Regions from separate parts of the Homo sapiens genome. Here all the other regions are linked to region 1. The links come from fine-mapping of genetic effects on gene expression. A gene starts in region 1. Each other region holds a variant in brackets. All regions are shown on one strand. Distances are between the middles of the regions. Region 1 holds the start of SLC30A4 (solute carrier family 30 member 4). Region 2 holds the start of LOC124903483 (a long non-coding RNA gene). Region 3 has its middle 18 kb from the start of TRH-GTG1-9.

Evidence for each region. PIP is the estimated chance that this variant, and not a neighbour inherited with it, causes the effect.
Region 2: its variant is fine-mapped to the expression of SLC30A4 in blood mononuclear cells (TOPMed, PIP above 0.99).
Region 3: its variant is fine-mapped to the expression of SLC30A4 in whole blood (TOPMed, PIP above 0.99).

What each region holds. Positions count from the first base shown.
Region 1 is chr15:45,521,183-45,523,943 of GRCh38, reverse strand. SLC30A4 (solute carrier family 30 member 4) reads left to right here and starts at 1,189. Exons shown (of 8, transcript NM_013309.6): 1 at 1,189-1,337; 2 at 1,476-1,980. The coding sequence starts at 1,590. It also overlaps the pseudogene HMGN2P46. RefSeq lists a silencer at 997-1,486.
Region 2 is chr15:45,456,002-45,458,762 of GRCh38, reverse strand. All of the region lies in intron 1 of SLC30A4-AS1 (SLC30A4 antisense RNA 1), which reads right to left. LOC124903483 (a long non-coding RNA gene) reads left to right here and starts at 2,255. Exons shown (of 4, transcript XR_007064616.1): 1 at 2,255-2,324. RefSeq lists an enhancer at 2,000-2,049. The variant T/G (reference allele first, on the strand shown) is at 1,471.
Region 3 is chr15:45,218,119-45,220,879 of GRCh38, reverse strand. No RefSeq gene overlaps it. Among named protein-coding and RNA genes, the nearest start is that of TRH-GTG1-9, 18 kb to the right of the region's middle. The variant A/G (reference allele first, on the strand shown) is at 1,097.

The sequences.
Region 1 (2,761 bases):
CTAGTAGCTGGGATTACAGGCATGCGCCACCATGCCCAGCTAATTTTGTATTTTTAGTAGAGACAGGGTTTCTCCATTTTGGTCAGGCTGGTCTTGAACTCCCCATCTCAGGTGATCCGCCCGCCTCGGCTTCCCAAAGGGCCGGTATTACAGGCGTGAGCCACCACGCCCAGCTGATAGCATTTTTTTAGCAGTCATGTATTTTATTTACTTGTTTATTTTTAGAGACAAGGTCTCACTCTGTCGCCAGGCAGGGGTGCGGAGGCACAATCATAGCTCACTGTAATCTCGAACCTCTGGGCTCATGCGACCCTCCTTCCTCAGAGCAATTAACAAATGTATATATACTTTTTCCTTCCTCTCTCCCAATATTTTAAATTAAGGTATGCACATTGTTTTAGACATAACGCTATTACACGCTTAATAGACTACATTATAAACATGATTGTATTTGCACTGGGACATGAAACATTTGTGAGACCTCACTTTGTCATATTGCGGTGGTCTGGAACCAAATTCGCAGTATCTCCAAGGTATGCCTGTACTAGATTTTCTATGCTTGAGTTTAGTCCATATCGTAAATACCTTGGAGGCAAAAGGAACACGGCAGAGAGCACAAAGAGGACAATACATATTTGCTGAAAAACAGTAGGACACAGAACTGCTGACGACGACAGCCTTGCCCTCTCCAGTTGACTGCAGCAAATGTTGCCAATTTGCCAGAGACAAGCAATTCGAGGAGAGAAAAGCTGCTTGCCTTTTCAGTTAGCAAGAAAAGTGCTGGGTTTGTCTTCTGCCGAGCACCCGCAACCCAGATCCCGACCCGAGATTCCTGAGACACACTTTCGGTGGAGGGAACTCCTAGCAGCAACGCCCAGCCCCCGGCGTGACCCTCCGACCGCACTTGCCTCCCAGCCTGGGAAGGTGGAAGAGGCCGCCCAAAGTCCCCTCAGTTGGCCAGTGAGTGACCCCTGGGCGGAGGCGGCGCAGTGGCCCCCAATCCAGCCTCGGGGCGAGAGGCGGGGCGCGCCGCGCGCCCCCGCCCATCGCGGGCGCCCCAGCCCTGCGCGCCAGGCCTGCGTGTCCTCGCGCCGACCCCTCCCTCGCGCGCCTCGCCCGGCGCACGCGCGTGGCCTCGCGCAGGGCGGGGAGAGGCGGTGGCTGTGGGCGTCCGGCCCCGAACCTGTCAGACCTGGGGAGCCGGCCTCCAGCAGCGGGCGCGGCGGGCGCGAGCACGACCCCACTCTCCTGCGGCCGCGGGTGGAGCAGCGCGAGCCCGCCTCGCTGAGCCGGCCGGGGGCGGGGAGATGAGTTGCGGCCCCGCGGCAGCGCCCCAGGTATTAAATAGATGTGCCGCCCCCTCGCGGAGCCCCGGCGGAGCGTCGGGGTCGGCCCTGCGACCCGCCGCCAGCGGCTTCGGAACTTGAGGACAGGGTTGGGCGCCTTTAATTTATAACGTGTTTCGTTTTCCACAGGATGGGGAGGGACGCGCGGCACTGCCCTCGAGAACTGGCGCTCCGGTGAAGTAGGCGCCGCCGGCCGTCCGCCTCCCCCAAGCCGTTCCGCACCGCGGCCGCTCAGCCTCTGCCATGGCCGGCTCTGGCGCGTGGAAGCGCCTCAAATCTATGCTAAGGAAGGATGATGCGCCGCTGTTTTTAAATGACACCAGCGCCTTTGACTTCTCGGATGAGGCGGGGGACGAGGGGCTTTCTCGGTTCAACAAACTTCGAGTTGTGGTGGCCGATGACGGTTCCGAAGCCCCGGAAAGGCCTGTTAACGGGGCGCACCCGACCCTCCAGGCCGACGATGATTCCTTACTGGACCAAGACTTACCTTTGACCAACAGTCAGCTGAGTTTGAAGGTGGACTCCTGTGACAACTGCAGCAAACAGAGAGAGATACTGAAGCAGAGAAAGGTGAAAGCCAGGTTGACCATTGCTGCCGTTCTGTACTTGCTTTTCATGATTGGAGAACTTGTAGGTGAGTTGTGTTGCCAACTCACTTTCCGTTTACCTTTCCTCGAGAGTCTTTGTCAAGCTGTAGTTACACAGGCTTTGAGGTTTAACCCATCTTTTCAGGAAGTTTGTATTTATCAAGACACTGATCTCATGTGAAAAGGCCACACGGTTCCAAAGTGCAGCTCAATCTAAGTACAATATAAACTCCCCGAGATAACTTTGACTTTCTCTTCTAGTTGTTCAACCACTGTCATCTACCGTAAAGTTAAGGACGTTATCTTCATTGTATGTCATGTAACTTCCTCTTTTTACAAAGGTCTGGTAAAATACCAGGTTAATTTTCGCAACGTTTAAAATAGTAAATGATCGTAAATAACTTAAGATCATAGAATTTTACAGTATGAAGGGACCTTACTGAACACCTGCTCCACCTCCTTTTTTTTTTTACATGTAAGGATTTCCAGGGCACAAACCAGTGGAATAAGTCGTGAGGGCCACTTAGGGAGTTAATGGAAGAGCCACATCTACAGTCCCAGCATTTTTTTCCTCTACATTTGACCTAAGTGGTTTCTTTTATACGATTTCCTTTTGTATTTATAGCCAAGAGATTTGCAAAATTAATTACCAACTAACATGAAATTTTTGCCTCGTAAGAAGGGCCTGAAATGAACCAGAGGACTCCGCCAAAGTTCTATGAGCCTGGTTTTCTTGTTCATTTTTTAATTATACGAACAATCCGTTCTCAATATAAGATACATTCTTAGTTTAGAGGTTATTTTCAATCACGTCAGTATAACTACTAA
Region 2 (2,761 bases), 65 kb after region 1:
TTTATTTTTAAAATTTATTTTAAATATATTCCCAATCTCTGCCTTCATTCTCTAGGACTAAATGTACCATTATCCTGACATCTAGCACTATAAAATGTTTTTTCTGTTTTGACCTTTATATATGATTATGATTATTTTATACCTGGCTTCGTTTGCTCAACATTATGTTCATAAAATCCATCCATCCATATTGTTGCCGTTTGTAGCTGCAGATTCTGTTGGCTTGTCTGTTTTTCCGTTAGATATTCCACTGCATCAATATACTACCATTTATTTTTCCAGCCTATTCTTCGTGGGCATTTGAATTGTTTCCAGTTCTTGCTATTACCTGCCAATAATGCTGTTATAAGCAATCTTGTATGCTTCTTAGTGTCCATGGACTCACATTTTTGTTGAACATATATCAAGAAGTGAAGTTGCTATGACATAGAATACGCCTATGCGTTAACTGTTTTCTAGATAATGCCAAACAATTTTTCAAAGGTATAGCAATTTGCACTTTCTCCAGCAGTGTATGAGAGTACCCGCTGCCCCCATTTTTGCCAACTTGGCAGGCTGCAGTGCAGTGCATCTCATTGCGGTTTTATTTTGCATATTTCCCTTGGGCAAATTTAAAACAACTAAAGTGAGTGGCACGCCCTCTAGTGGGTAAAATCTGAATTACCTGAAAGGGTCTTTACAGCGTATACAGGCTTCCTGGGCTTTCCTCCGCCTTGTCCTCCACCAGTAGTCTCGAAGAATAAAAAGTTGAACATCTTTCATATATTTATGGTGCATTTGATATCCTCTTTTAGAAATTGCCCCTTTAAGCCTCTTGCTTATTTTTCTACTGATTTTTTAACAGCCCAATCGCTAAGATTTTTTATATTAAATTGTAAGAGTTCTTTATAGATTCTGACAAAGTGCTTTATTAGTTACATGTGTTTCTGCGCACGCCTTTCCACCTATAACTTAAATCAGCTGATTTTCACCTCTATTAACACGAGTCTCAATCCAAGTTCAATTTTGTCATATTCAAAATCGACCAGGAGATGGCGCCCTAGCCTTGCGTCTGAGCCTTCCACAGGCTGTGCCTGAATTTAAACTAAACCTCCCAAAATATTTTGTAAGGGATGCTAAAGAGATATTAAACTTTCAACCACTACAAACAGGTAGTATATAGCTAGAGCTGGGCCTCTTGGTGAGAACAACATATTAATCTTTTAGGGGAAAGTGACTGCTCAAAATAAAGAAATAAAAAGATCTTTATCACAAGGCAGGAAGCTGGGGTGAGGTTGCCCAGAAACAGGTGAGGACCCAGTAGAATCCATGGAAACACCCTCTGAGAAGTAACCTGCGGACCGATTAAGACAGTGGCACTACCTCGCAGGCCCTGGGACGGCTGTTTCACTGTTTACAAGGGCACCTGCCAGCGAAGGGTCTCAGAAGAGGGTAGAACAGGGGTTTGGTATTTTTCCACCTCCCTTCCCT[T/G]AGTCCTCTTTTTGGTTTTGTTTTCATTCATTATATTTTGTGACTGCTTAAAACTTCTGTCCTCCTGCTTCCTCCCAGCACCCCCGCCCCCCTTGCTGAATGAATGAATGGATGGCAAGGTCTTAGCCTTTTGATCTTAGAAATCAGTGCACATAAACCCCACACTCAAAGGAAGACCCCCAGGGAGAGCCCTACGTGTAGAGGAGGCTCCTCCAAGAGGGGGCTCGGGAGGGGGCTTGGTGGGCTGGGCTGGCCTGGCCTGTGCGCATGAGAGAAAGGAAAGGCATCTGCTGCCGAGGGCCATGAACAAGGGGCCGAGGCACACTGTGGGCATGGTGGGAAGGCGACCTCTTTTCTCCAACTTTCACAAGCGCCTGGCAGGAGCCACTACGTGGACATCGTGAGTGGTTCATCAGCAAGAATACAGGAACGTCAAGCCACAGATTCCACTCATTTCCTGAGGTAGCCAAGACAGGGTTTTTACCGCTATGAGTCACCACCCTCATGCCTCCAAGGCCTAGTGCAAAGACGAGCGCATGTGGAATGTGGTGAATGACGTCATCACTGCTGTTCATTCTCACTGTCCAGAAATGGCTCCAGGCTGAGTTGCACCCTCAAAGCTTTCCTCTGTTTCACCTCTGTTCAGACCCAATGCAGGCCCCTTGCAGCCCAGAGGAATAAAGAGATGCCTAGAAAGAGGCCGTGGCCACTTGTTCTCTTTTGTTTTCTTCACTGCGGAGGACTGAGCAAGCCCACTATCTGAGCAATGTGGAAATTCCAGCCCTCACAGGGCTTCACACCTTCAAGGGGAAGAACATTGCGCCATGAAACTTCCTTGCTCTAGGCCTGCCAGGGTAGGTGTCCGGGGGCTGGGTTCTGGGCCCGCACCAGGTCCCCAGGTCCAGGCCGCGAAAGAGCGGGTCTGCTGAGTGGGAGGGGCTGCCTGGGGCCAGGCTCTGCTCTCACTGGGGCTGACCCCACACAGGGATTCTGAGGCCTGCTGCCCACAACCTGCTGCCCAGACTGATGGTGTCCAGACAGAGGGAGGGTGACAGATGGATGCTGGGAGAGGGTACACAGCCCTGTGAATGCATCTCTTGGAGTCTGGGGTTTGGTGCCTCTTCCTTTCTTCCTGGTGCTAATGGTTTGCTGGATTGAGTTTGTACTGCTTGCAAGAGCTAATTGTGGAATTTTCAGAAATTTTGCAAAGCAGTTATTAAATTGTCATCATTTTAAAAATTAAATTATAACAACTCATGAGAAAATAAGTTTTGTTTTTGTTTTTGTTTTT
Region 3 (2,761 bases), 300 kb after region 1:
TAAAAGTTAATAAGATAATTCTATCAACAGCATTTAAAAACTTGAAGAAAAAGACCAATTTCTAGGAAAGTAACTTACTACATCTGGCTCAAGAAGAAATTGAAAGTCCCCCAAATCCTATTACTGTTAATTAAATTGAAGAAGTCATGAAAAATCTGTCAACAGACTTAACATTTTCACCTGTCAAAAATTAACTTACAATAATTCTCTTTCTGGAAAATTAGAAAACTGGATAAAATATATGAAACAGTGGCTTTCAGACATTGGACAACAGGCAACATATAACTATGATCTCTGAGAGAAAGAGAACAAATGAGGTGAGCCCTGGGATTGGCCAGTTTACAAAGACAGAGAACACCAGAAATCTGCAGAGGAATCTTTTTGAGTCTTTGGCTGAGAAGTAACTTATGTATACATCCAGTGAATCACCATGAAGCCGGGTAAAGGACCACCAGAATGTAGTAAACTAAACAATTTCTGGAGCTCACACAGGGCTGTGAGTAGTTTGTGTTACTACTAGCCAGAAGGATCATGCTTTGGTTAGTAAGCCCTGAAAGTTTGAAACTAACCCCAAGTAATTTTTTTTTTTGAACCAGAGTCTCACTCTGTCACCCCGGTTGGAGTGCAGTGGCATGTCTTGGCTCACTGCAACCTCTGCCTCCGGGTTCAAGCGAGTCTCCTGCCTCAGCCTCCCTAGTGACTGAGATTACAGATGTGCACCACCATGCCACGCTAATTTTTGTATTTTTAGTAGAGACAGGGTTTCACCATGTTGGCCAGGCTGGTCTCGAACTTCTGACCTCGTGATCCACCTGCCTCAGCCTCCCAAAATGCTGGGATTACAGGCATGAGCCACCATGCCCAGCAACATCAAGTAATTTTAACCACATGCCAGAATAATGTCAACACTCTAAAGAAATACCACAATATCAACACCTAATGATGTAAAACTCATGGAGTCTGGCATACAAGAAAATAATTACCAAATATGCAAAGAAGTAGAAAAATATAACCCATAATCAAAAGGAAAATCAATCAGTATAAATCTCAAAACTATAAGAAGATGGAATTAGCAGACAAGAACCTTAAGACAGCT[A/G]ACATAAATATTATAAATATTCTTAAGAATGTAAAAGGCGGCCAGACACGGTGGCTTATGCCTGTAATCTCAGCACTTTTGGAGGTCAAGGTGGGAGGAATGCTTGAGCCCAGGAGTTTGAGACTAGCCTGGGCAACTTAATGAGACTCCATTTCTACCAAAAATTTTTAAATTAGCTGGGCACAGTGACATGTGCCTGTAGTCCCAGCTACTTGGGAGACTGAGTGGGGAGGATCAGTTGAGCCCAGGAGGTTGAGGCTGTAGTGAGCCCTGAACACACCACTACTCCCAGCCTGGGTAACAGAGTAAGCCCTTGTGTCAAAAAGAAAAAAAAATGTAAAAGAAAACATAAACATAATGAGAGAAACACAATATAAAAAGATATAAATGGAACTTCTAGAGATTAAAAATATAATATCCGATATAAAAAAATTAGACTGGGTGGGATTAACTGTGAACTTGAAGATATAGCAATATAAACTATCCAAAACGCAGTGTAGAGAGAAAAAGGAAAATGAATCAAACCTCAACAACCAGCTGGGCACAGCGGCTCATGCCTATAATCCCAGCACTTTGGGAGGCCAAGGTGGGCAGATCGCTTGAGCCCAGGAATTTGAGACCAGCCTGGACAACATAGTGAGACCTTTTCTCTTATTTTTTAAAAGAAAAAATATTTTAAAACTTAAAAAATTAAAAATTAAAAATAAAAACGAATCTTAACAAGCTGCAGGACAGCCGGGCATGGTGGCTTATGCCTGTAATCCCAGCACTTTGGGAGGCCGAGGCGGGCGGATCACCTGAGGTCAGGAGTTCAAGACCACCCTGGCCAACATGGCAAAACTCCGTCTCTACTAAAAATACAAAAATTAGCTGGGCATGGTGGTGCAAGCCTGTAGTCCCAGCTACTCTGGAGGCTGAAGCAGGAGAATCGCTTAAACCTGGGAGGCTGAGGTTGCAGTGAGCCAAGATCACACCACTGCACTCCAGCCTGGATGACAGAGCAAGACTTCATCTAAAAAAAAAAAAATTACTTGAACAAATAACAGTATACAATTTCCCCCCCACACACAAAGAAAGTCACAGAGGAGGTATATGATCTTGCTTTAGCAAGATCTGCTTTGCGTTTAGCTTCCCTGGGCCTCAGTTTTCTGATCTTTAATATAATGCCTATCTGATAAGTGCTTGGAGGATTAGCTTGTGATAGATGTAAAGCTCTTGGTCCAATGCTGAGTACTCAGTTGTTGCACATGAATGGAAGTAATGAATGTAAAATCCCCAACACCAGGCTTGGCAAAAAGTAAACACCTCAAAATGTAAATTATTGTTATCATTTCATCCCTTGTTTTCTTTCTTTGGTCTATATAGACTTAATTTCATTATAAAGATAAAATAGACCTTGAATGATTAAAAAAAAAATTATAGCCTGGGCAACATAGCAAAACCCCATTTCTACACACACACACAAAATATATATATATATATATACACACACACACACACACAAATATATATATGTATACACAAAATTTATATATACACAAAAATTAGCTGGGTGTGGTGTCAAGCGCCTGTAGTCCCAGCTACTGGGGAGTTAGGGGGCTGAGGCAGGAGGATCACATGAGCCCAGGAGGTTGAGGCTGCAGCGAGCACCACTGCACTCCAGAC